5 separate regions of the Homo sapiens genome follow, and regions 1, 3, 4 and 5 are each linked to region 2. Evidence: fine-mapped expression QTL. A gene starts in region 2. Each other region holds a variant in brackets. All regions are shown on one strand. Distances are between the middles of the regions. Region 1 overlaps CSMD1 (CUB and Sushi multiple domains 1). Region 2 holds the start of MYOM2 (myomesin 2). Region 3 overlaps LOC105377781 (a long non-coding RNA gene). Region 4 overlaps MYOM2 (myomesin 2). Region 5 overlaps MYOM2 (myomesin 2).

Region 1 (5,105 bases), 890 kb before region 2:
CATTTTTAACTCAACAGAGGCAAAATAAAAAATAACTTTTTGTGAATATTAGTAACGACAGTGAACTAAAAGCTTAAACTTGAAATTTAGTGTAAGCATACCGTGCTAAAGGCTAGGCATATGCCCACAACCCTGTTTTACAGAGTAGTAGAAAGTTTCGTGTCTTAACCAAGGCCGTATAACTTATCAGTGATAAATAGACATCCAAAACAAAACCAATCCGATTCAGCCTTTGGGACCTTCCCGATTTCCCTGGGGCATTTGTAGGAAGCATAAGTAAATCTTTGATCCCAGTTACCCAGGAGGCTGAGGTGGGAGGATCGCCTGAGCCCAAGAGGTCAAGGCTGAAATGAGTGGTGGTCGTGCCACTGCACTCCAGCCTGGGTAACAGAGTGAGACCCTGTCTCAAAAAAATTTTATTTAATTTTTGAAATCGATTCACTTTTTAAAACCCATTTTATACTCCCAATCACCAATTTAAGCAAATAAACTGACAGGTGTGCAGGTGTGGATGCCTTCCTTCTTTGCAAACGTCCTGGCTATACTGCTCCCTGCTCTGTAGACGTTGTCTCCTGCACACAGTCCCAGCTGCTAAATCTGCAAATGAAACCAGGATTCTAATGATTTGTTTTCTGTTTTCCTTAGAACGAGACCAAAAGTTCAATACAATGGCTATGCTGGGCATGAAAACAGCAATGGACAAGCATCGTTTGAAAACCCCATGTATGATACAAACTTAAAACCCACAGAAGCCAAGGCTGTGAGGTTTGACACAACTCTGAACACAGTCTGTACAGTGGTATAGCCCTCAGTGCCCCAACAGGACTGATTCATAGCCATACCTCTGATGGACAAGCAGTGATTCCTTTGGTGCCATATACCACTCTCCCTTCCACTCTGGCTTTACTGCAGCGATCTTCAACCTTGTCTACTGGCATAAGTGCAGCGGGGATCTCTACTCAAATGTGTCAGGGTCTTCTACGGATCAAACTACACATGCGTTTTCATTCCAAAAGTGGGTTCTAAATGCCTGGCTGCATCTGTATGAAATCAAGGCACACTCCAGGAAGACTGCCACGTCGCGCCAACACGTCATACTCAATGCCTCAGACTTTCATATTTCTGTGTTGCTGAGATGCCTTTCAATGCAATCGTCTGGGCTCGTGGATATGTCCCTCAGGTGCGGTGACAGAATGGTGGCACCACGATATGTGTTCTCTTGTGTTGTTTTTCCTTTTTAAACCCCCATGAACACGAATACTCTGAAAAAAATAAAAAGCTTTCTGGAAGAAGACACCTTTCTGATAGAGGCTCACACCTACAAATGCTTCACTCTGTCCTTCCGAGACCTGACAAGCTTTGAGGACCTCACAGCTCCCCTGTGTGTTCATCTCTAGGGATGTTTGCAATTTCCCAGTCAGCTGTTCTGTCGCAGAATGTTTAATGCACAATTTTTTGCACTAGTGTGTTATGAATGACTAAGATTCTGATAAAAAAAATAAATTATTTACACAGGGTTTATACACACTATCCATTGTATATAAGCATTATTTCATATTATCAAGCTAAACATTCCCCCATCAGCTTAGTTGGAGTGTTAGGGAAAAGTATTCCTAGATATGGCACAGATTTTAAAAGGAAATACAGTATTGAAGAGATTTATTTTATTATTGCTTCAATTAGCTCCATTTACGTGTTGAATTCATTGAAGAGGTCCAATGAGAAAAAAACAGAAGCCTCCTTATTTCACACGTTTTCCTCCTTTAGTACCATCCTCATCCAATTACTGTCTCTCTGATACTACTTAATAGCAGGGGGTTTGCAGAAATTTCTGTTTGCCATGTAAAACTGTGAATAGTAATTTATTTTAGATAGTCGATGAACTTGTGGGTTTTAGCTCACAATGCAGCCTTCCCTTTTGCAGTGTTTTTTTTTTGTTTTTTTTTTTTTTTGTCTTTTACTGTGCCATCGATCTTTGATATTGCATTGAAAGACAATATACCACAGTAGCACCTTGAACTCAGTGAAAATTGTTCAGGATCAAAATACCAAGTGTTCTTTTAGAGGGAAGGAAAAAGTACACACACTCTCCTCTCACAATGATATATTTTATACATTCATTTGTTATTTGTTTCATGCTTTATGATTCCAGATGGAAAGGTAATTTCAGTGACTTTTCAAGTTTAAATTCCATTATAGGTAAATGATAAGTTATGATGCAAATAAAATCTATAAGATCCCCAGGGCAAATAAAAATCAAAACATGAAGTAGAAGATGTGGCCGTGAGGTAGTTTATGTAACAAATTCAAAGTGAAAATCATGTTTACTTTTACTTATACTTATTTGATAAAAATATTTTTGAAACGATAGTACTTATTTTATTATTTGATATTTCAGTTCCTATTCAATTGTGGCAGATTTTCTCTGTTTCACATTTTAGATTGGCGTTGGTAATAGAAATGTCAGAATGTTCAAATTGGCCTTCACGTTGTCGGAGTGAACACATTGACACCTAGCTTTAAGACTGATTTATCTGTTGGTGTACTGAAGGTTTCCATGTAGGACTTCAAATGTGGAAAAGGAAAAGCAGTCAGGAAAATGGGGCATTCTTTGGAGAGTCACGCGTTTTGATTCGGACATTTCCGTAGAGCTCGGCTCCCAGTGTTGTGTTCCTCGGTCGAAAGGGTCTCTGCTGTTTGGGGACTCACTGGCCTCTCCTAGGGACTCCTTTGTCTTGTGAACCCCACGCTGTTGGATTCTGTATCATTATGCTGAATTCTCTGCACAGTTTTCCCTGGCCAACCTGCCCACATCCTTGGAGATTTGCTTTGCCAGTGGGAATCCTTACATTGCTGTTTCACAGTAGACGGGACGAGGTCAGCGGGAGTCGTGCTCCTAACACACACATTGAACGAAACAGAAGATGATTGAAAGTGTGAGGAGGCTCGTGTGCAAGGGAGAACAGGGTTACTATACATATTAGTGTATATATATACATACATATATATATATATATATTGTACATATCTAAGTTTGAGTCATTCAAACTAGGTGCAAAATGCTGACTTCAGAGTCTGAATTAACATCTCTGTTCCCATATCCCTGACCTGCTCCCTGGTCAACGATGCTATGAAATCCTGAAATGACAGGACATACATACATACA[A/TACAA]GAAACCACATATCAAATTAGATATGATTTTCCTTTGTGTGCAAAGTCAAACTGTCCTAGGGTTGCCAGTTTGAAGCATGTTATTTAAATGAAAAAAAAAATCAGTGAAATTCTCGTGTGAGAATTCTGCCTAGTTTCTTCCTAAGGTTGTGTGCAGTGTTGAACGGCGTCTCCGCAAGGTGTTGGAGGATCTCATTTTAGGGCAGTCAGGAGCTGTGCTTGCTGAGTTAGGTCTAGAAGACTCTTCCCTGAAGGCAACGGGAACACGCGTGAGGGACGCGACCACACACTAACAGAGGACACGTGCTTCAGAGCTGTTTAAAACTGCTGCTTGTTTTACACACACATCTTGCCTTTTTTCAGGCTAGCTGCAATAATTTTTTTCTTCTGTAAAATATTTTGTAAACAACAACAAAAAGCTATTATAAAAAGGGGGTAAAAAAAAGAACGCTGGCATTATGATCAGGAAAACCCATTGTCATCGCCGACCCTCCCTCCCGTCCCACCACACGCTGCTGTCACGACGTAGGTGCGAAAGACCTTTTTGTACAGAGATATATTTTTTATGAAGAATTTGTAAAATTATTAAATATGCTGTAATTTTTTGATTAATGTAGGTACATTGTTAAAAAATAAATGTTTTTACAATACAGAACTGTAATTTTCCCAATAATGTAAAATGTACCATCTCTAGCTGATTTTCAGTTCCAATCCTATTACACATGTATTAATATTAAAGTGGCCTGTTAAAATGAACAGTATCTTTTTTTTGTCAAAAAAATTATAAAGAGGGTGTAATATAGCCTGTGCAATGCCACCAATCTTTAAAGCAAATCAGAGTTCTAATTAAATATTTAATTTTAGATTTCTATTTTTCTGTGTGAATTTATTTTCACTTTAATATGCGCACCTGAGTCCCTTGCAGGGGAGGGAAGGAATGGGAGTCTTCATAATGAGCCTTTAGGATATTCAAAATGAAGCTCCATATTTTTCCCACGACATTCACATCATCGTCATGATTAATCAATAGCACATTTAGCAGGAACCATGAGACACAGAATAGTAACGTTGAAGCTGACAGATTTCTTGATGGTTCACATTAAAAACGGTAAGAAAACTTGGTTTCCTCCAAACCAAAACCTATGTTTTTTTATGATTTCTTTTCAATTTGGGAGCTCTGTTTGTAAACGTTCACCACACTAAAAAAATGACATGAAAGAGAATTATAGACCTACTTAACAGAGCACTCCAAATAACACATTTAAAGAAGGCTCAAAAAAATCAAACCGCTTTTTAAACTCAGAACCAGCGGTCCCCCGTTCATTTCTGGGCTGACAGAAAACACAATGCTTTACACGTCCTTGGTGGCCCATCACGCCGAATGTCTTGCAGTTCAACAGAATGATACACTACTTTCTCTGAGAGTCAAGTTATTACAAAATGAAAAACAACCAATAATATTTCCAAAATAGCCCACGGTGGCTTCGCAGCGACCAAGTTTTGATGTCCAACTTGCAATCTGAGTCTTGCTGGCCAGCAACTGCATTTAGGTGCCATTTATTGAGGAAATACCGAGCGCGAGACACTGCACTTTGTGACTCGCAGACGTTGCAAAACCCCCATAATCCAACCGAGAGGGTTTTGCCACTTTGATAATTTAGATGAAGAAGCAGGAAGTTAAATAAGTTGGTTGGTTTACCCAACGACACACAGATAGGCAGAGCTGATATTACAGGTCAGGTTTCTCTTGCTTCAACTTTCTCATTTTTCAAGAAACCGTCACATTATGAAATGCATCCAATATTCCCTTTCTTATCCAATTTTTTTTCTGAATTTTTCTGTCATTCTACCTGTGAATCTTCTTTTGCTTCATTGAGTAAATAATTACCAAAGCTAAGAATTCAAAGGGAAATAAGTACTCTCTATTACTAATTTTCAC
Region 2 (5,105 bases):
CTTACACTTATGTTGAGTTAAACCTCAGATGTGTTTGTATTTCTTGGTAAAGGGAAGAGTCAAAATGTGACCTATTAGGTCAAAGGAGAGAATGAGCTACATTGAAATAAGAGGAGAATCGCCCTGGATGGAAATCCTCCTCCTTAGACCTAAGACCTGGAAGAATGTGAAACGGCTCAGGTCTTGAGAGCTCACAGACTAGCTATCCTTCAACCAGTCTGTAACGTCCTGTCCAATGCAACCTATGTATCACTGACGTGACATCCGGTCCTGTGGGCCTGGAAGTCTTCAAACACTTCATGTGTGAGGGGCTACACTTTGTAGTGCTTAGCAAGGCAGAGCTGGGATCACGTGTGCACACTTCCTGCAATCCTCACTCCAATGGTACCTTACTGTGGAAGTCTCCCCGGGAAGTCTTTGGATGGGGGTAACAGGGCACTTTGCCACGTTTATCCCCACATGTATTCCCTGCTCACTTCATGCTCAGGACCACCAAAATCAGGAGGTGTCAGAGGCTTTGCAGAATCCATCAGCCTCAGTTGATTCCACAAGTATGGGGTCACTTGCAACGTGCCAGCCAAGCCTAAATCAGAACCCTTGGATTTCAACAATGAAAACACCTTAGAGCTCCTGGCTCGGGAGAGTAGCAAGCTCAAGTCTTCTGCGCATTTGACTCCCAGTGCCAATGTGCCCTCAACTCCACTTTTATCAATCACATGCCCAACCCAGAAAACCAGCAGGACTGCACGTCCAGCCTCACCCACCCTGAATGTGTGTCCCCTCCGCAATCTCTTCACTCCTTGGGGGACTTCCTATGTTAGAACTTCCCCAGTGTCCCTCACCCAGCCTGGGCCACCACCTCCTGGCCGGGTGTGATGACGTCTTTGCAAGCAAATCCCCACTGACTCAGCACGTGCTGGGTGCCTGCAGCCCTGGCAGCACAGGGCCCTTCTGAGTGGAGGGAACCCTGGAGAGGACTTGCCAAATGCACCCTACAGGTGGAGCATCCCTTATCCAAAATGCTTGGACCAGAAGAGTTTCCAATTCCCGATTTGTTTTTCAGACTGTGGAATACTTGCATTTATACTTACTGGTTGAGCAACTCAAATCCAGAAATTGGATACTTGAGATGCTCATGTAAGCATTTCCTTTGAGAGTCATACCAGCGCTCACAAAGTTTCAGAATTTAGAGCATTCTGGATTTCTGATCTTCAGATTTGGAATGATCAACCTGTACTATTTATGACACTATAAAGAAAATGACAGGACCTGGGCCGATCAGCTCCCCAATGTCCCTCTACTGTCTACATAGAAAGCTGTTTTCCTTTTTAAGGAACTATCTCAGACATGTGTTAAATACCCCCTACACACACCAACCAAAAAAAAAAAAAAGAAAAAAGAAAGAGAGAGAGAAAGAAAGCAGCTTTTCCTCGCAGGGTAGTTTTTGATGTGAGTCCCTGGGGCTCAGGCGCATTGGGAGGCTGAGACTCCAGTGGGGACCTGCTGACCTTCAGCTCAGGGGCCTCCACCTGCTCTGCTGTAAAACAGGGGGCTGAGTGAGGTGGCAGCTAACAGTCCCCCAGCTTGGACAGCCTGTGTGTAGATAATCCTGGCGCCACGCTGTACTGTTAGCACAGACCGTCCCCAGGGAAATATGACTTGCCCGGGTCACCGGTAGGGCCACGGCCGAACCCAGGCGCCAGCTGACTCTCCTGACAGCGTCCAGCCCACTTTCCACCACAGCCCAGCTCCCCGGCCACTCCCGGAATGCTCCTGACACGTTTAGGAATCATGACACCAGGATGAAACGCGAGCCTCTCCTCCAGTGCAGGGGACCACGTGTCTGATATCCCCATCCTAATTCCTTCCTGCAAACAACGTGTGGAGCCCATTCCTCATGTCACCAGGATGGGTTTTAATTTGCAAAAATGTTTGAAGTACAAAACATTGACTTCCACTTAATGAAGGAAATTGTTTGTACAGTTAAAAATGTCAAAGTCAATAAATACACCAAATTAAAGCTTTCTAGAGGGGAAAGGGACTCCCAGACACGCAGCGTTGGCCTGTGCCACAAGTGGCTAAGCCCTTGGCTCCCAAGACAAGTTTTAGCTTGGGACTTGGTTTATTAAATAACGCCTTAAATTATCTTTGTTCCACGCTTTCTTTGAGTCCTGTTTTACTTCTACTTAGTAAGAAAGGAATGTGAAATGGAGAATTAGAAAAGGCCAGGTGTTCCCAGTGATGGCAAACCCCTTCCTTCCGTTTGCCTCCGGTGCCTTCCACGTGCAACCACCCAGCCCCACTGTCTTTCTCCAGCAGGTTGCATTTCAAGAGCACGCCCTGAGAAGGCACAGCCTCTATCAGCGGAGTGGAGCTGAAGAAGTCTGAAGGGTCACAACACACCCAACAGCACAAAGAAGAAAACAGCCGTAAGAACGCTGTCATTTTTGGGCAAAAACTTGCAAGTCCTGACAAGGATTGTTCTCTTTCCCATACCGTGGATAATATAGGCTAGGTCTAAGCTGAATGACCCTCGACTCTTTTTTCCCTTAAGAAAATATCCAGTTTTATTATTTCACACCTTTATAAGTCAGCCCTCTCCTCGGGGGAGGCTTTCGTTTCTGAGAATCTCATGAAACTTGCAGACATCAGTCCACTGACTGGGGGGCCCCCTGGGGCCACGATGAGACCAGGGCTAAAACCCAAAGCACACGCCGCAGGGTGCTAAACGGCACTTAGCAAAGACCACGGCTGTGGGAAATAAAATGTTAGTTGAGCATAAAACCTCGTCAAAGAAATACAGATCCCAGAACTAATTGCTCTGTTTTCCACAGTAAAGGGTGCCTGCGACGGGGTGCACTGGCTCTCTCTTCTTGACCCTGAAGTAGAGGTACTTAGAAAATGTGAGTGCAGAAGTTACCGGTCCTCCCCTTAAAGCCACAAATTAGAAAAGGCAAGAAGAGAAAGACACTTACCCAGACAGAAAGGAAAATTGCAAGGAGGAGAGAGAATTCCTGACCACCGGCTCACCAAGCCACCCACACTCCAGCCGAGGAAGGCAGAGCTGACTCCTGCAAAGCAAGCGCCTGTGCCTCCCTCCCGTTTAAGGTCTGAGGAGCTACTATATATAGACGCCTGGGCCTGCCTCTCCCCACATCAATACCCACATCGTAAATCACCAGCCTGACCTCAGGAGGAAAAGCTTCTTGTTCAAACTGAGGGCGGGGGAAATCACGATTCAAAACTGGAACGTGTCCTTTCTGAGTCCCAAACTGCACTTTTCCCAGGAAACCGGGTGTGACACTTCAGCCCCCGACCCAGAAAGAGAGGGCAGGGCACTGACTTCCCACGCTCCCTCCCCGCAACTCTCCTCCATGAGTTCTAATCCTTACGTGTGAATTCTCAGACATATCTTCAATCCTTTCGAGCTACAGGTTCCCTGGCTCACAAATTGCAACTCCTGAATGAGTCTTTAATAATGACATGGATTTCAGTGAGCATTTGTGCCATTCGCAGGCCTGGACACCCGAGTTGAGGTCGGCTGTGGAGGGAGGGAGGTGCACAAGCCCCTGGGTTTGTGAGCGTGTGTGTGCATGTTCGTGTGTTTGTTCGTTTTTTTTTTTTTATTTCAAGAACGACTCAGGTCTTCACTCGATTGTATCTTAGGGCTATTTTAGCAAGAACTGCCTACCCAAAAGAGGAGCGGTGCCTAGTCGGCAAGTCGGGGCTTATTTATAGCCATTACCACAGACGTACACTGCGTCTACACCACACGGATAATTGCAGGGTGCCCGTCGTTTCGCACAGCGTGTGTCCAAATATAGATAACACACACCTGGCACGGTCCTGGGCTGCAGCCTGGCCAAGAGGCGGGGCCTCAAGGGGATGCCCCCATCTGAGGACCCGGAGAATCACACTCCAGCTGCACCTCACCACAGGGGCTGAGGACTTCGGCCAGCTGCTCAGCCCACGGGGGCTATGCTCCCCAGCTCTAAAACGCATGGAATAACAACTTTCCTGTAAGTTTGTTGTGACAAGTAGAGAAAATATGATAAGAGAATTGCCTTAAGAAACTCCACGTTCTCACACTGGGGTATCAGAGGCACAGCCAAGGACCAGCGAGCAGGTGGATGGAGGCGAAGATCAGATACGAGAAAGACGCGAGCACAGCCTCTTGCTGGGCCCCAGAGCGTTCTGGATGCTGGATCAGGAGGCGAGTGTTTCTGTCTTCTTCCCCTTCGTATTCTGATGGCCTAGCATTTAATTTAATTAGTGTTTGTTGAGTGATTTCTTAGTCTATTCAGGCTGCTTTAGCAAAACACCATAGACCGTGTAGCTTATAAAACACAGGAGCTTCTTTCCCACAGTTCTGGGGACTGGAAGTCCAAGATCCAGGTACCAGCAGACACTGCCTGGGGAGAGCCTTCTGGTTCTGGGACGGCGCGGTCCCTGAGTCCTCACCAAGTCAAGGGGCCAGGCCGCTCTTGGGGCCTCTGTATGAGGATACTGATCCCACTCGGGAGGTTCCACCTCCATGACCTTGTCACTTCCCTAAGGCCCCACCTCCTCACACCATCGTTTTGGGGGTTAGGGTTTTAACCCACATATTTTGGGGGGGTTGCAAACAGCAAGACCAGAGCAAGCAATGTTTACTTCCGGTTTATCAGCATCTCCTTCTCTAGCGAATCCATTTCTCAGGGACCTGGGGGACTTCCCTTCAGCCCTTCTGCCCCCCTGCCTCTGAGTGTGGCCGACACTGGAGGGGCAGTGATGGTGCCTCGTCCCCTCAGGTGGCATCTCAGTCCTCTGAGTCCCAGTCCTGGCATCTCAGTCGCCTGGGTCCCAGTCCTAGCATCTCAGGAGGGGACAATCTCATCCCGGGGAGGGGCCTCTCCTGAGAGAAGGAAGGGCCAGCACACTCCTCCTCCTTTTCTGACATTTCACGGTGGCTGTGCCCTCCTTCTGTGATATAGAAATCCAGTGCTGCGTCTAAGAAAGCCTGGATCTTTCAGCCACACCACCCAGAGAGCAGAGTGTGACCCGGGACACAGATAGGCTCCTGATGGGGACAGAGCTTCGCCTTCTGCTGGGGACAGGAGACCCCT
Region 3 (5,105 bases), 130 kb before region 2:
AAGCGGACGGCGAGTGGACAGCACGGAAACCACCCCTGCGATTCGGCACAGGCTCACGTGTACACAAGGAGGAAAGGCGTCAAGAATTTCCACTCTTCATATTCACTTACACAGTGTTTGCTGTTGTGGCTGTTTTGGTTTTCTTATTTAACTTTTAAGGTCAGGGGTGCATGTGCAGGTTTGTTTCATAGGTAAACTCGCACCGTGGGAGTTTGTTGTGCAGATTCTTTCAGCCTCAGGTATAAAGCCTAGTAACCATTATTATTCTCATCCCCTCCCTCCTCCCTCCTCCCGCCCACCACCCTCCCTGGGCCCCAGTGTGGGTTGTTCCCCTCTGGAGGGTAGAGGGTGGAAGGAGGGAGAGGATCAGAAAAAAACAATTATTGGGTAGTGGCTCAACACCTGCTATGAAATAATCTGTACAACAAACTCTCATGACATGATTTTAACTATGTAACAAACCTGCACATGCACCCCTGAGCTTAAAAGTTAAAAAAAAAAATTTCTTTTTAGACAGCGTCTTACTCTGTTACCCAGGCTAGAATGCAATGGTGCTATCTGCTCACTGCAACCTCCGCTTCCCCAGTTCAAGCGATTCTCCTGCCTCAGTCTCCCGAGTAGCTGGGATTACAGATGCCCACCACCACGCCCAGCTAATTTTTATATTTGTAGTAGAGACAGGGTTTCACCATATTGGCCAGGCTGTTCTCAAACTCCTGACCTCAGGTGATCTGCCTGCCTTAGCCTCCCAAAGTGCTGGGATTACAGGTGTGAGCCACTGCACCCAGCCAAAAAGTAATCACCTACAGGAAAAAAGTAGTGTAGAAGGACCAAAAATCAAGGTGAGCCATATAAAGGTAATAATAATAATAGTGTTTCTGTTATTCAAAATAGAATGGTGTTGACCTTACACACAATAGAGGGAATGCCACATTACAAATCACAACTTCAGTCATTTTGGACCTGTAAAAGCATGTTGCCTTTATCATCTCTTACTCATTAAAAGCACTTGTGAGAACTTAATTGTACATTTTAAAAGAACTCGGTATAATTGGATTGTTACACAAAGGATAAATGCTCGAAGGGCTAGATACTTGTGACAAGCATCCAGACACATATTATTGCATAGAAGCGTCATTCTCCACGATGTGCTTATTTCATCTTTCACGCCTGCATCAAAACATCTCATGTACCGCATAAGTATATACACCTCCAATGTGCCCACAAAAATTAAAAATAATTTTAAAATAAAGACAGTGCATTCCACTGCAGCAGCACACACACAAACCATTTGTGGCTTCTCTCAATGTTTGCATTTGCTCTGCGATGGGAATGTCTGTGCAGGAAAGACAGAGCCCCTGCCCCTGGGCATGCCCAGCCTCACCAAGGAGGGTCAACTTCGAAGGAACAATATTCTGAAAGAGCTCCTTCCCTCTCAAGGCGGCCAAAAGTACATATTCTCCCTATTTTTATTTTACAGAGTAGAGAAATTCTAAACTGGTATCTTTTTTTTTACTGGAAAGTGTCAGTATTGCTGGGGAAGGGATAAAATCCTCACATACAACATTTCACACATGGAAGTTTGAGATTGTGGAACCACTTGTTAGCATCGTATTGGGTCCTCAAAATGACATTAAAATGTAGATTAAAAAGGATTTACTATCCTCACGTTACACAAAACTGGTAAAATAAAATTATTTAAGTGGGAAAATAGTTACTCCAAATTGCAATATGATACTATTTTTCAATATATTCATTGGGAGATCTTTTTGCATTGATGATTCAAATCTGTTCATTTCTAGCTAAATTCTAAAGAGATCCTAATATTATTACCTGATCTTTTTATTTAAAATGTTTAAACAACTTGCTGCTCCTCTAGCATCTACGGTCTACACTATCACATAGAACAGAGATACTCACAGATTCAGGACATAAGGCATGACAAAATCTGCATTTTTTTAGAGAATTAGGTCATTGCATAGCCAAGTCAGTACCCCAAGTCCCTGCCCTTCATCCTCTGGGGTCCCTTCCCTGCCAGGCGCAGGGTTCCAGTGGCAGGTCCTGACTCAGTGGGACCTTTCTCAGCATCTCTGACAGAAGGACTGTCTGGAATTACAGGGCACGATCAATTGTCTGCCTTGCTAGGAAGTCTCATCTGTTCTTATGAAAGCGGTCCAATTAGTCTTTAGTTGAATCGTAACTGGATTTATAACCTTTTCCATCTATTGCTGTTTGGGAGTGGATATCTTCACCAAGTGATTTTTTTTCCTCTCTATTTAATACTGAGGTTACTTACTGGATAAGCAAAAGAGATATTATTGATGAAATGCTCTTGTAGTATATCAGCTTGAGTTTGTCAGCTCAATAAATACTTTATGCCCCAGGGCCAAATAAAAAGAAAGAAATTTTCAAGTTTTTATCGACTATCAAACTCCAAACTGTCAGCTTCTCCTGATACAAATCTATTTTAATTTCAGTTTCTTATGAGTCACTTAGTTTCCCAACTACTGTACTTAAAGTAAAAAGGGGCTATAAGAGGGCACATTGGTGAAATACAATGTAAATAATTTAAAAACCTAAGTGATTACAAAGCCATGGGCCCCAGGTATGAAACACACTCACCATAATTTCTGCTCAGCTGATGACCTCCTGTTCATCTGTTGTCATTAGCAAAAAGCATACTTATGCTCTGG[T/C]TGACCAAGGGAAGTCAGTGAAGTCTTTGACGTGGGAACAGAGAATATGTGTGGCAGCCCTGAACCAGACCTGTGGTGTCTACCTTATGCTACTCTCACGTTAACCAAGCAAGATAAACACCTGCTTTCAGGATACATGGGTGCATCAGGATTACTTAATGCATACTTGACTATAGAAAACAGAAAGTGGGGCCAGGCACGGTGGCTCAGGCCTGTAATCCCAGCACTTTGGGAAGCTGAGGCGGGTGGATCACTTGAAGTCAGGAGTTCGAGACCAGCCTAGCCAACATGGTGAAACCCCATCTCTACTAAAAATAAAAAAAAATTAGCCAGACGTGGTAGTGGGCGCCTGTAGTCCCAGCTACTCAGGAGGCTGAGTCAGGTAAATCACTTGAACCTGGGAGGCAGAGACTGCAGTGAGATGAGATCGCAGCACTGCACTCTAGCCCTGGAGACAGAGTGAGACTCCATCTCAAAAGAAAAGAAAAGAGAAAACAGGAATCAGTCAATAGTCCATGGACAGGATGAATACATCCATGCGGTGCTGTCTTCAGCGACAGGAAATCTTGGAAGGAGAGTTGATCCTCGCTATTCATGGTGGCTGTGCTGTGTAAGTGACTCCCTGAGTAAACTGAGAAAGTACTGATCAAACCCAACCCTTTCAAAGTAGAGAAAACATGACACCTTGCAAAGTCAGAGACAGTCACCAGACGCCATATAAAGTATGTGCGTCCATTCAGCCAGCACAGCTAGTACTTGTCAAGTTCCAGGGACTGTACTGAGCCTCTATAAACAGAAGCAAACAATGTCTCCCCACTCTCGGGGATCTTTCAGTCTAGTGAGAATTTGATGTAAAGTAAAACTTCAAATGGGGATTTGAAATGGTTCCCTGTTAATTTAAGGTGTGATATAATAATATCCATTCAAAACGCAAGGGCTTTTTTGAGAAATATAGACAATATTGTCTGGGATTTTTTTTTTTTCTGCTAAGAATAGCTGACAGACCAGCAGCTGATGCCAACCAGGTGGGGGTACAAAATTCAGTCTTGAATTATCCATGATCTCTGGGAAATTTTCCCACAATTCTTTGACTTTTCTCAGGCTCTTCTCCTAGACAGCAATTCTCCCTCCAATTCAACTTCCCACACATTTGGAGTCTGAGCCACCCTGGGCCCCTCTTCCAGGAGGCCCTCCCGGGTGTCTTGGAGGGATGTACTTCTCCCCTCTCCACATCTGTGCCAGGCTCTGTCACGGTCAGCCGCGCACATGCAGGAAGCCACTCTGCTTCCTGGCGACACAAATGCACGGCCTTCCTCAGCAGCAGGGACGGGGCTTGTTTGTGGGCTTACGCCCCAGCAAACAAAACAATAGCTGGCTCGAGTCCGTGCTTCATGGATGTTTTTAAAGGAATTAAATGGTGATGATATTTAAAGCAGGGGTCCTCAACCCATCAGCCTGAGACGCGACCCTCTAGTTACAGGAAAACAGGCTCAGGGCTCCCACTGATTCTATGTGATGGTGAGTTGCATAATTATTTCAATATATGTTATAATGTAATAATAATAATAGAAATAAAGTGCCCAATACACGTAAATGTGCTTGAGTCAACCTGAAGCCATCCCCCTCACCCCGTCCGTGGAAAAATTGTCTTCCACGGGTTCCTGGTGCCAAAAAGGTTGGGGACCACTGATTTAAGGCATCAGGGAACTGTATGGTTAAGATGTGAGTTAAATTATCACCCAAAGGGCAAGTTAGTGATCATTTTACCAGTGGAAAGCTAAGGAGCCGGCTATGGTTCCCCTCTCACACTGTCATACAGGGGAGGGGAGCAGGGACACCAGCGGGTGGAAATCTCACCTCCCCACAAGGTTCAGCCATCCTCAGAGGCTTCCCCATGCCCCGCAGGGAGCCCAGGGCTCTGCCACACTGTCCTAGCTTCATCTGAGCCCAGCTTTGACCCCTCTCCTCCTCCATCTTTAGTGAGGCTGATGAAGCACCCCTGACATTCAGCCATTCGAGAGCCTTCCATGGATGCTTCGAGGAAGAGGACCGGGATCCGATCAGCTGTTCTCTTCCCATGTCTCTCACCATTCTTTCGTCCTACAAACTGATAGGGAACTCCTCCAAGACATATGTCCCTGAAGAGAAGGAAGAAGCCCTCATTACACACGATGAGATTTGGTTCCTCTCAGGTTATCTTGACCACCTGGGGATGTTCAGCCCCATAGCTAATTGCCTCAAGGAAGGCATTGAAGGGCAAGAGGAGACTTTTGAGGGTCTCCTAAAAGGCACAGTAAAACCCTTGACGGTAGCCCAGGAACCTGGGTTATCGCGAGCCTTCATTTTGACAGTACAGGCACACACGGGACCACAGACATGTCTGTGAGTCCTCTGGCTTTGGAATGACTTCAT
Region 4 (5,105 bases), 72 kb before region 2:
CTGTCTTGCCTCCTTCAGTGGCAATCACAGCCCACTCCTGCCACTCCCCCCACTGTGGGCTACCTTCCTCATCTTCAACACCCTCCAACCCTTCACTGGAAAGAGTGTGAAACCAACGGGCTGCACTGATGGATCTGCCGCTTGCTCTGCCCTGGTTTTTGGCATCCCCCCCGCCCCCTCATTGTCCTTCACAGGGAGCTGCCCTGGGGGCCAAGCAGCCCCTTGCATGGCTGTGCTGACCTGGTCTCATCTCCCTCCAGGCCAGCACTGCCCCTCCTGTGTCCCCATGTGCTCCCCTTCCTTCACCTGTGAGTCCTCTTCCACTGACCCCTCTGCCTATAAATAGGATTGAGCGTCTCCATCCAGAAGGAAAGACAAAGCCACCCTGACTCCCCTCGCTCTCCCTCACTGCCAGCTGAGCACCTCAGAGGGCAGCGGGCTCCTGCTCGTATCCCCCCTTGTGTCCCATCTCCTCAGCCCACCACGTAGAGACCCTGCCTTGCCAGGGAGTGGGGTTGGAAAGCCCAGCACCCAGCCCGTGCTGCCTCCAGCTGTCCCTGCTCAGCCGGCCATGCAGCGCTGCCTCCAGCCGCCCCTCCTCACCCGGCCACGCAGCGCTTCACTCCAAAGTCCCTCCCTGCCAGAGGCCACCAAGTCACTTGCTTTCCCTCTGAACTCTCTGAGGGTTTCTGCTTAATAATCCTGGAGCTGGTCTCCTCTTCTCCTCTGACAATCTGAATTTTCCAGAATGCCCCAATTGTTTGTGATGTTCCTGTCTCTAAAGGCTGTCCTTTGGCAGCTTGACCCACTTGCGTCATGTCCACAGCCAAGCATTCCCAATACCTCATGAATCCACACACGATATCTCATGAATCCACATGCTCCAGATGACTTTCCCATTGCTGCCAGGTTCACATGTCCTGTCGTGAGCCGGTTATGCCTTACTGACCATTCCACGGATATAACTAAATCTTTGTGAAATTGAATGTATTCTCAAAACCCTAAAACTTGGCCCTCCCCGTACAGTGCTGATCTCAAGAAATATCACACCCACTCGGTCCTCCAGTACACTTCCCTCTCACCCACACCCAGCTACTTGCCAGCCCCTGCTGGTTTTAACTGCTGGATGTGTATCCTAAATCTCCTTCTCTCGGTGGATATGAAACTGCCCTGCTGGAGTTACCATCTCTCAGCAGCCTACTGAAGCGTCGTCCTCCAGCCCTGCCACCTCCAGCCTTCCTTGTCAACCAGCAGCCCGTGTCACTGCACTAACAGCCCTCAGGTGCTCTGTACCCTCTCAGTCCATGGCCAGCCTCTGGGTCCTGCAGGGGAATGCCCCACTTGCCCACCAGCCTTGGGTTTTTTATTGTTTTTATTTTTAAGTGCACAGTTCAGCTTCTCTGTCCCTCCCTGCTGCTGGATCTTCCTAGAACCATCTTTTCCCACTCACTGGCCTGCATAATTCTTAGTCCCCTTGGCACACGCAGCTCACGAATCATCTCTTTATTGAAACTGTCTGTTTACTTTTCTCTCTTATCCAGTAGACAATAAGAAACTAGTTTGGGAGTAAAAACAATGCATTATTGATCTTTTTCCCCCATCCCCTCATCCTGAGACAGTCAAATAGTAGGCAGTTATTAAATTGAAGATTTGCTGCTTAAAAAACAGATTTTTATATTTAGTAATAAAACATATTTCATTACTACATTGTTAAACGAAACTGAAAGAAGTATCTTGTCTCCAAAGCATGCCTTTCCTTTCCTGATGAACTCGTATGAGCAGCACTTCTAGGTGTATTTCACCAGGGCACACTTTCTCATAAACTCACTTAATAATCGTTTAAGTAAAATTTTTATAATCCAACCTTCCATTGCATCCCACTACACTGTAATCTTTTCGTGAAGAAGAAAAGATAAGCACTGAAGTCCAAGTATTAAAAAGTCCACAGGACCCAAAAGCCACTCCGCCCATCCGCAGCTACACAGGCACCACACGTTTCCTCACCAGCATCACAGATCTGGCCACAGCTACTCCCTGAAAGGCCTCTCTGATAGGAACCAGAATGAGATTTATTGTTTTCCTGTTAGAACCGGGTTTCTCACCTTGCAAACAAGTCGAACTTCACATTCTTCCGTGACATCCCAGTGCAAGTACTCAGCAAAATGAGGGCCTAGGGAGGAAAAAAGGGAAGAAAACATATAAAAAAGGAAAAAGTAAACAAATAAATATATAGCTATTATATATATATACCCACACATATATGCATGGTGTGTATATATAATACATAAGAATGTATTATATATATTTATGTAATGCATTTTTGGCAGAACACAATAGCTGTGGAGGATGAAACTGAGATAGTTTTCAGGCCTGGGATGTCGACACGTGTTAACACTGATTCTCCACTGGAATCTGTGCTTCCTGGTAGGAGCGTACGTCTGATGGCTCCTTCTTACTGACATCTCATATCTATTGCTCTTCAGAAAGGAGGCTATTGAAATAATTATATTTTGTTTCCCAAAGTATATGTCTAACTGAACATTCGACAACATGGTAAATAATACCTTTAAATAAGAGAATAGATATGAGATAAAGAAACAACAGTTTGACCTAGCAATTTTGTAAAACACATTTTCTTTAGATAGCATTCAAAATCAAAGACAGGTTTATATATGTTTTTAAAAAATGTTAATCATTTTTATTTAAAATACATGTAGGAATAAGTCATACACTAATACCCTTTTGCCATTCAATGCAAAAATACAAAGCAGATTTGGAAAGTATGTGT[TC/C]ACTTCTTTCATATACATAAATACATCCTACAAAGTTGGCCCAAAAATGTTCATAATGTAGAAGTAAGTAAAATATTTGTGACTATTAGAAATAAAAACAATGAAAAATAATAAAAATGAATGTTTTGATTTTATGTTTCATAATTCACATTCTAATTTTTCTCAAGAAGTTCAGAAATCCCATATATAAAAATGTTTTTTGAGGCTGGGCGCAGTGGATCACCCCTGTAATCCCAGCACTTTGGGAGGCCAAGGCGGGCGGATCACGAGGTCAGGAGATCGAGACCATCCTGGTTAACACGGTGAAACCCCGTCCGTCTCTACTAAAAATACAGAAAAAATTAACCGGGCATAGTGGCGGGCGCCTGTAGTCCCAGCTATTCGGGAGGCTGAGGCAGGAGAACGGCGTGAACCCGGGAGGCGGAGCTTGCAGTGAGCCAAGATGGCATCACCGCACTCCAGCCTGGGCAACAGAGCAAGACTCCATCTCAAAAAAGAAAAAAAATTCTTTGAATAAACCCTTGGGGTATGTTTGAGAATCTAAAGTGTATCCATTTTCCTTTGTATCTAGTTAACATGTATTTGTAAAAGCAATCTATTTAAAACATATTGTTTGTAGTTAGAAAGTTTAACAGCTCCCACAATCTTAAGTAGAATGAGCAATTTCCTGGTGATAGGAATAGCCTCTACTGCCTTCTCTACATTTCAAAGCCAAATGAAGCCACCACCTCCTCTACCCCCATTCTTTATTCTTTTCATTAAAATTGCTGGACTCCGTCTGGACATTAAAGCTAGAGGCACGCTTTCCTCTTCACTCCCCTGCTATAAAGCAGGTTCCTTTCCTATGCAGTTGGTAAGCCTAACCTCTTAATCATTTAAAACAGCCTTTAGGGTTGCTTGGGATCATGCAAGATCTGCTTCTGACAAATACTCCAATCATCTTTGCTTTATGCTAGGGGCAGGGGAGCCGGTCAGAGTGAGGAAACTCACCTTGTTTCCTGAGAAATTCTTTCCTTTGAAACTCAGCCTCTTCCAGCACAGTCTTGAATGCTAAATTCAATATTTAAAAAAATATATATGAAACATGTTTGCTTCTCTCCAGTCAAAAGAATTTCATTTGAATTATCTTGTATGGACGTGGAAATATTCGATATAGCATACCATCTCCAATAAGAACTAGAGAAGACTGACTTTTGGCTTTCCCATCATGAATCTGCACAGTGTAGGTCCCCTCATTTTCAATACTAAATCGATCCATCACCATCTCAATAATGCCAGTAGCTTTGTCACATTTAATTCTGTGTATCTGCAAGCAAAACAAGGGAAATGGAGAATTATACAAGGAAATCTCTCCTAGTTTTCCCTTGCAACATTTAACAATTGCATCAGCCATGAGATCTCAAGGGATTATGATAGGAAGAAACCAAAATGAAATTTTATCAAGGAAACCTCTGGGTGAACAAGGATCAAACAGTGGGTATGAGCTGTCACTCAGTGACAAAGCCTGGCTGTGTGAGGAGATCTGAGAGTCCAAACCAGGGACCTTCTAGGCAGAGACTCCACACCTACCCAAGAATGAGTTACTAACGTGAAGCAGATAAAATTCACAGGAGAAAATAAAATGATACGCAATTGATATGAATGATAACGATCACCAGCTGATGACAAAAATCCCACATGGATAGCAACAACAGGCAATCTCCACAGCCACTGTCATCTTCAGCTCCCGGGACACAGCACCCACAAGCCCCAGCCTGCTGTGGTCCATCAGGGTGCAGGGGTTTCAGGTGAGGAAAGGATAAATGGACCTCCAACAGGTGTTGACTTTTTTGATCGCTTTTATTTTTTAAATGTTTCATTTTATTCTACAGTACATGCACAGATACATATGAATGTGTTCTATTTAGGTAATCCTACAAGTCAAAGAACAAGTGTTTCTCTAACACACAGATGAATTGAGCAAATTTGATCTTTTGTTTCCCTCTGATTTTGTGATGTTTACTTATTAACTTTTTAACTTCACTAAAACCATTTTCCCCATCTTTATTAATGCTTATTTCTCTTTTTTATGTTTTGTTTGTTTGTTTTTTGTTTTTTTTTTGCTGGTTGCCTTATTTGGGGGCTTGATATTTTTACCTTTTTGTGCTTCTTGATAATTATTAAAGTTATAAATTAATATTAATACTTAAATTTCACTTTTTCACTTAAATAACTCTAATTCTAATGAAACCTTTCAAAACATCAATCAGCCTGTGTAATTTTTAGAACTGTTTCAAACCAATTTCATATGGTATTGGTCTTTGCCAATATATGTTC
Region 5 (5,105 bases), 95 kb before region 2:
GGGCAGATCATCTGAGGTCAGGAGTTAGAGACCAGCCTGGCCAACATGATGAAACCCTGTCTCTACTAAAAATACAAAAATTAGCCGGGCATGATGGCGGGTGCCTGTAATCCCAGCTACTCGGGAAGTTGAGGCAGGAGAATCGCTTGAACCCAGGAGGCAGAGGTTGCAATGGGCCGAGATCATGCCATTGCACTCCAGCCTGGGTGACAGAGCAAGACTCTGTCAAAAAAAAAAAAAGAATAAAGGGAGGGAGGGGAGGAAGGGAGGAAGGGAGGGAGGGAGGGAGGGAGGGAAGGGGAGGGGAGGGAGGAAGGGAGGGAAAGAAAGTGAAGTGGCCCTGGGTGTCTGGGCTGCAGGTTCTGCAAGGGAGGAGGGAGGGAGGGTGTCCAAGGGGTGACGGGGCTAAGGCCGAAAGCAGTGCAAGGATCAGTGGTGCAGGACATGGGGCTCCAGGACAGGGTGTGGTGTTGGTGGCGTTGTTACATCAGGGTGGGGGATTGCTGGTTATTATTTAATACACAAAGTTGGTCCTCCAAAATATGGACACTTTTGCCCCACCCCAAATAATTCACCATCCTGGTTACAATCCAACAGGTACTTACTCTTCTCTGCAAAAGCAGCAGCTCTAAAAGTTAAAGGGGACAGAAAGGAGAGAATGAAAAGAGAGTATGAGAAAATGCTTCCAACAAAATGCACAGCTGAGAGGCTCACTAGCGATGAAGCAAAAGAAGAAGGAGATACGTTTGCATTCTCTTAGAAGAACATGTTCGGGTCACAGGACCCCAGGATGGATATCACTGATTTTTCCTGATGGTTCCCACTGCCCATTTTGAGGTGGAAAATGCCCTATTATCCAGATGCTAAAACCCACAGAAAAGTTTAGCATTCCAGCTCACAGGTTGAAGAGATTTTTTTTTTTTTCACAAATTCACTAGATTGCACTGGAGACTTGAGATATTTTCGGAATTTGTCAGTTTCTGATCTATCTTGCTCATCCCTGCACCCAGTCAACAAATGTTCATTAAATAAGCTAGCATGGGCCAAGGACTGCGGTCAGCTTCGGATGTGCGAAGACTCGATGGTGCATTTGAAAACCCCGAATTGTCCTTAAAAAGTTGCTGTGTGTGATGTGCTGCCCTGATGATGACTGGCAGAGCAGCAGCACCGCCATCTTGGACTAGCATCGCCATTTTAAGTCTTCCTTGATTAGAAACCGCCTAAGTCCAGCCCAAAAACATCAGCTTAAGGGCTAATGTCAGCATGGCCATAAACCACAAATGACACCTCCGACCAGAAACATACCAACCCTGGCATAACCTGCCCTCCAATCAAAAACATTCCAACCCTGAGATAAGCTCCCCTCCAACCAGAGGTATTCCAACCTCACAATAAAACTCTCCTCCACACAGAAACCTTCCTAGCCTGAGCCAGAACCCTTAAATACCCTTAGTCTGTAAAAGAAAGCGCTCCTGACCGAAATCGGCCAAAAGCCCCACTCAGGTTTATTCTCCAAAATAAACCTGTCTTTGACTGTTAATCTGCTTTGCGTGTTTCTTTTCTCTTTCTTCAACTCTCACAATAATGATTTCCGAAATTCATCCGGGGTTCCGATGACTCTGGACAGTCCGTTTATAAATGCATTTCTGGTTTAGGAGAATGCCCACCCCTCCATATACTGCATTGCTTAAATTCCCACTTCTGTCCCAGGAATGGCTCTTTCTTTAGGTCACCCAGGCTTCCATACAGATTCCCACATGCAGCCAAAACGACTGGGACTCAACTGCCCACAGGATATCATAGTAACTAAATACACAAATCTTACTTGAATTGCTGGAATTCTGCAAATGCTTCATCAAAAGCTGTGAGGAAATAGTTCATACGTTACTAACCATTTCAGTGTTCAGATTTTATTTATTCACTCAAATATTATACCAGTGAATCTGGTTCATGAAAACTGATATATAAAAAAAGAATAAATTTATTTTTTCATTTTCTCTAAATGAAAATTGTAAATTCATATTGTCTCTTGTATTCATATTGTATTCCCTCCCTTCAGCATCTAAATGGATTTCTAAATAGGAAATTATTAAATGCTAAAGAAGAATTCTCTTACCTTGTCCGGACAGGTCAAGGGAGCGTTGATGGTTGTCTTTGCCATCGAAAATCTCAAAAGTGTATTTTCCTTTATCCTTCTCAGTCGGCTCACATATCTGCAGCCAAGCCATCTCTTCACTCCCCCCGATTCTCATATGCTCACTGGATGAGATCTTAGCATCTCTTGAAAAGAGCAACAGGAACGTATCTGAGTTAGGGTCTCCATGTCACACGCACAATGTCTACAGGGCAATGTCCCGTTGCTGTGACAGCCTTCTCTAAGCTGCTGATGCCAATGTCACAATAGATTATTCTGGCTGTTACGAATGTATTGACCACATCAGTAACTCAGATCTGAAAACTTTCTAAAATTAAATGATACTTAATTTTTAAAGGTATATTATTATGTAATATATACTTGTCACGACATAATGGACTTAACATTACTCTATATAGTATGGTAGTTCCTCAAAAAATTAAAGCTAGAACTACTACATGATCCAGCAATTACTTGTGTAGATCCGAAGAATTGGACACGGGGTCTTGGAGAGATATTGTCACACCTACATCCTTCGTAGTATCGTTCACGAC[C/T]GCCCCGGTGGGGAGGCAGCCCAAGCGTCCATTGGTGATGAATGGATCAGTAGAATGTGGTCCATAAATACATGAGGGAAATCCCAACACCTCCTGCAATGTGCATGAACCCTGAGGACATTTTGCTGAGTAAAATAAGCCTGTCACAAAGAGACAAATATGTACTCCTATGAAGGGCTTAGGGTAGTCAGATTCACAGAGACAGGAAGTAGAACTGTGGGTACCAGGGGCTGGGGGAGGGGAATGGGGACTGAGGGTTTAATGGGAACAGAGTTTCGGGTGGGAGGATGAAAAGGTCCTGGGTGGTGGTGGTGCCTGCACGATGATGTGAATGTACTTAACACCACTGAACAGTACCCTTAAAGGTGGTTAAAATGCTCACTTTTACATTATGTGTATTATGCTACAATATTTTAAAGTTTAGATAAAAACAAGGTGCTCATACATTCCCGCCTTCTAAGGTTCCACATCTGCAACATATAAGGCCAAACTGTTTACTGCAGACAAAAGTGTATAAGTTATTTCCTAACATTACTTCAGTTTAGAGGGAGCCTGAGAGATCTGTGGAAGTCATAGTCACAGGTGCATGAAAACAGGACGGACTCCAGGGCCACCCAAGAGCTGGAATGTGGACCTGTTTCTCTCGGGCACCAGCTCCAGAACAGCCGCAGCTTGGGGAAGCAGGCTGGGTCAGTTGCACAGAGAGCCAGCTGTGGTGCTTGTGGCATCTTTCCTTACCCTTGCCGGCAACCAAGAATGCCTATGTTCCATCGGGAAAGGGAATTCTCCAGCCCTCCTCACCATCATAGCCTTTTTCTCTGTTATTCTTTCCTTCAACAAATATATGTTAAGCCCATAATAAATGCACAGCTCAGGCCGGGTGTGGTGGCTCACACCTGTAACCCCAGCACTTTGGGAAGCGAAGGCAAGAGGAACACATGAGCCCAGGAGTTGGAGACCAGCCTGGAAAACAAAGCAAGACCCTGTCTCAACAAAAATAAAAAAATTAGCCGGGTGTGGTGGCAAGCACCTGTAGTCTCAGCTACTCAGGAGGCTGAAGCAGGAGGACTGCCTGAGCCCGAGGAGGTCAAGGCTGCAGTGAGCTGTGATCACACCACCGCACTCCGGCCTGGCCAACAGAGCGAGACACTGTCTCAAAAAGTATATATGTAAAAATAAATGCTTGGCTCTGCGTCCCGGTCTCTGGTGGTGGTGCTGGCAGTGTGTGTCGGGTCTCTGGTGGTGGTGCTGGCAGTGTGTGTCGGGTCTCTGGTGGTGGTGCTGGCAGTGTGTGTCGGGTCTCTGGTGGTGGTGCTGGCAGTGTGTGTCGGGTCTCTGGTGGTGGTGCTGGCAGTGTGTGTCGGAACTGAGTCTGTCCGGATAGAAAGTGGGAGTTCTGTGAAGGCACAGTGGGATCCTGGCGCACACTAAGCCAGAGAGGCCGAAATGGCTGTTCCCAGGGATGGTTTTGTGGGATTGGCTTCACCCTGAGACTTAGCCTCTGGGATCCCGGACAGAGAAGGGAGGATCTAACACTGCCCATGTGCGGTTGTTTTAGAATCCAAGAAGACATGCTCAACATCTACTGAAGCGACTTTGGAACATAACTGACACACATTTGTCTACAATAATCAGGTTGGCCTCACCTGTTGCCGATGTGGGAGCGAGTTCGTGCCGCCTTAGAAGGCAGGGCAGTGTGAGCACTTTGGTTCTATCTAAACTTTTAAAAACTGTGTTAGAATGCACATAATGTAAAAGTGACCCCTTTAGCCCTTCACAATATGTTAATTAGCTCCCTTTTCCCATAATCTGCCCCTCCCCGGAAAGAGGCGGGAGAATCGGACCAGGCAATCCTTCAGGAATCTCTCAGTCCCGCATCTGGAATTCTATACGTTGCTGACCTGGGAGCCTCACGAAGGCTGACCCCGCAGCAGAGCCCCAGGCTCCGCCCAGCTGCTCTCAGTCCACAGTCAGCATGGGCTGCCTGGGGAGCAGGAGAGGGAAGCAGAAGCGATGAGGCCATGACCCCAGGCCCCAGCACTCAGCAGCCAGAGCCGGCCGGGCCGAGAGTGCCATGTTTGCAAGCTGCAGGCTGGCGCTTACATTAAAGGCAACACGGACTTGCCAGAGTCTCCATCCGTGGTGTGTCTGAGGGCAGGTGAGCATCAGTGGCCACACCAGCCGTCCTGTGAGCTCACAGCAGGTCGCTATTACTAAAGGGATTGATGGGCCATTGCAGCACTCAGACCTACTCATCCCTGTGTATAAAAGGAAAATTAGACTTTACATGGTGATTCTCAGCTCTGCAGAAAAGAAAAACCTTGCACAGAACATATACCAGGCAGTGGATTAGCCACTCAATCCCAAACCGTGGCGTGTGAGGAGCAGCAAGAAGCCCGTCTGTGCAGAGACCTGAA

Evidence for each region.
Region 1: its variant is fine-mapped to the expression of MYOM2 in ovary (GTEx, PIP 0.99).
Region 3: its variant is fine-mapped to the expression of MYOM2 in testis (GTEx, PIP above 0.99).
Region 4: its variant is fine-mapped to the expression of MYOM2 in liver (GTEx, PIP 0.98).
Region 5: its variant is fine-mapped to the expression of MYOM2 in whole blood (TOPMed, PIP above 0.99).

What each region holds. Positions count from the first base shown.
Region 1 is chr8:2,934,285-2,939,389 of GRCh38, reverse strand. CSMD1 (CUB and Sushi multiple domains 1) reads left to right here. Exons shown (of 70, transcript NM_033225.6): 70 at 646-4,029. The coding sequence ends at 805. The region is part of intron 6 of LOC105377785 (a long non-coding RNA gene); the gene reads right to left. Among named protein-coding and RNA genes, the nearest start is that of LINC03021, 210 kb to the right of the region's middle. The variant A/TACAA (reference allele first, on the strand shown) is at 3,167.
Region 2 is chr8:2,043,039-2,048,143 of GRCh38, reverse strand. It overlaps MYOM2 (myomesin 2), which reads right to left and starts at 3,098. Exons shown (of 37, transcript NM_003970.4): 1 at 2,976-3,098.
Region 3 is chr8:2,173,192-2,178,296 of GRCh38, reverse strand. All of the region lies in intron 1 of LOC105377781 (a long non-coding RNA gene), which reads right to left. Among named protein-coding and RNA genes, the nearest start is that of MIR7160, 99 kb to the right of the region's middle. The variant T/C (reference allele first, on the strand shown) is at 2,694.
Region 4 is chr8:2,114,950-2,120,054 of GRCh38, reverse strand. MYOM2 (myomesin 2) reads right to left here. Exons shown (of 37, transcript NM_003970.4): 26 at 3,951-4,095; 27 at 3,780-3,839; 28 at 2,103-2,170. Among named protein-coding and RNA genes, the nearest start is that of MIR7160, 41 kb to the right of the region's middle. The variant TC/C (reference allele first, on the strand shown) is at 2,789.
Region 5 is chr8:2,137,898-2,143,002 of GRCh38, reverse strand. MYOM2 (myomesin 2) reads right to left here. Exons shown (of 37, transcript NM_003970.4): 33 at 2,117-2,280; 34 at 1,826-1,862; 35 at 606-628. Among named protein-coding and RNA genes, the nearest start is that of MIR7160, 64 kb to the right of the region's middle. RefSeq lists an enhancer at 4,706-5,105. The variant C/T (reference allele first, on the strand shown) is at 2,689.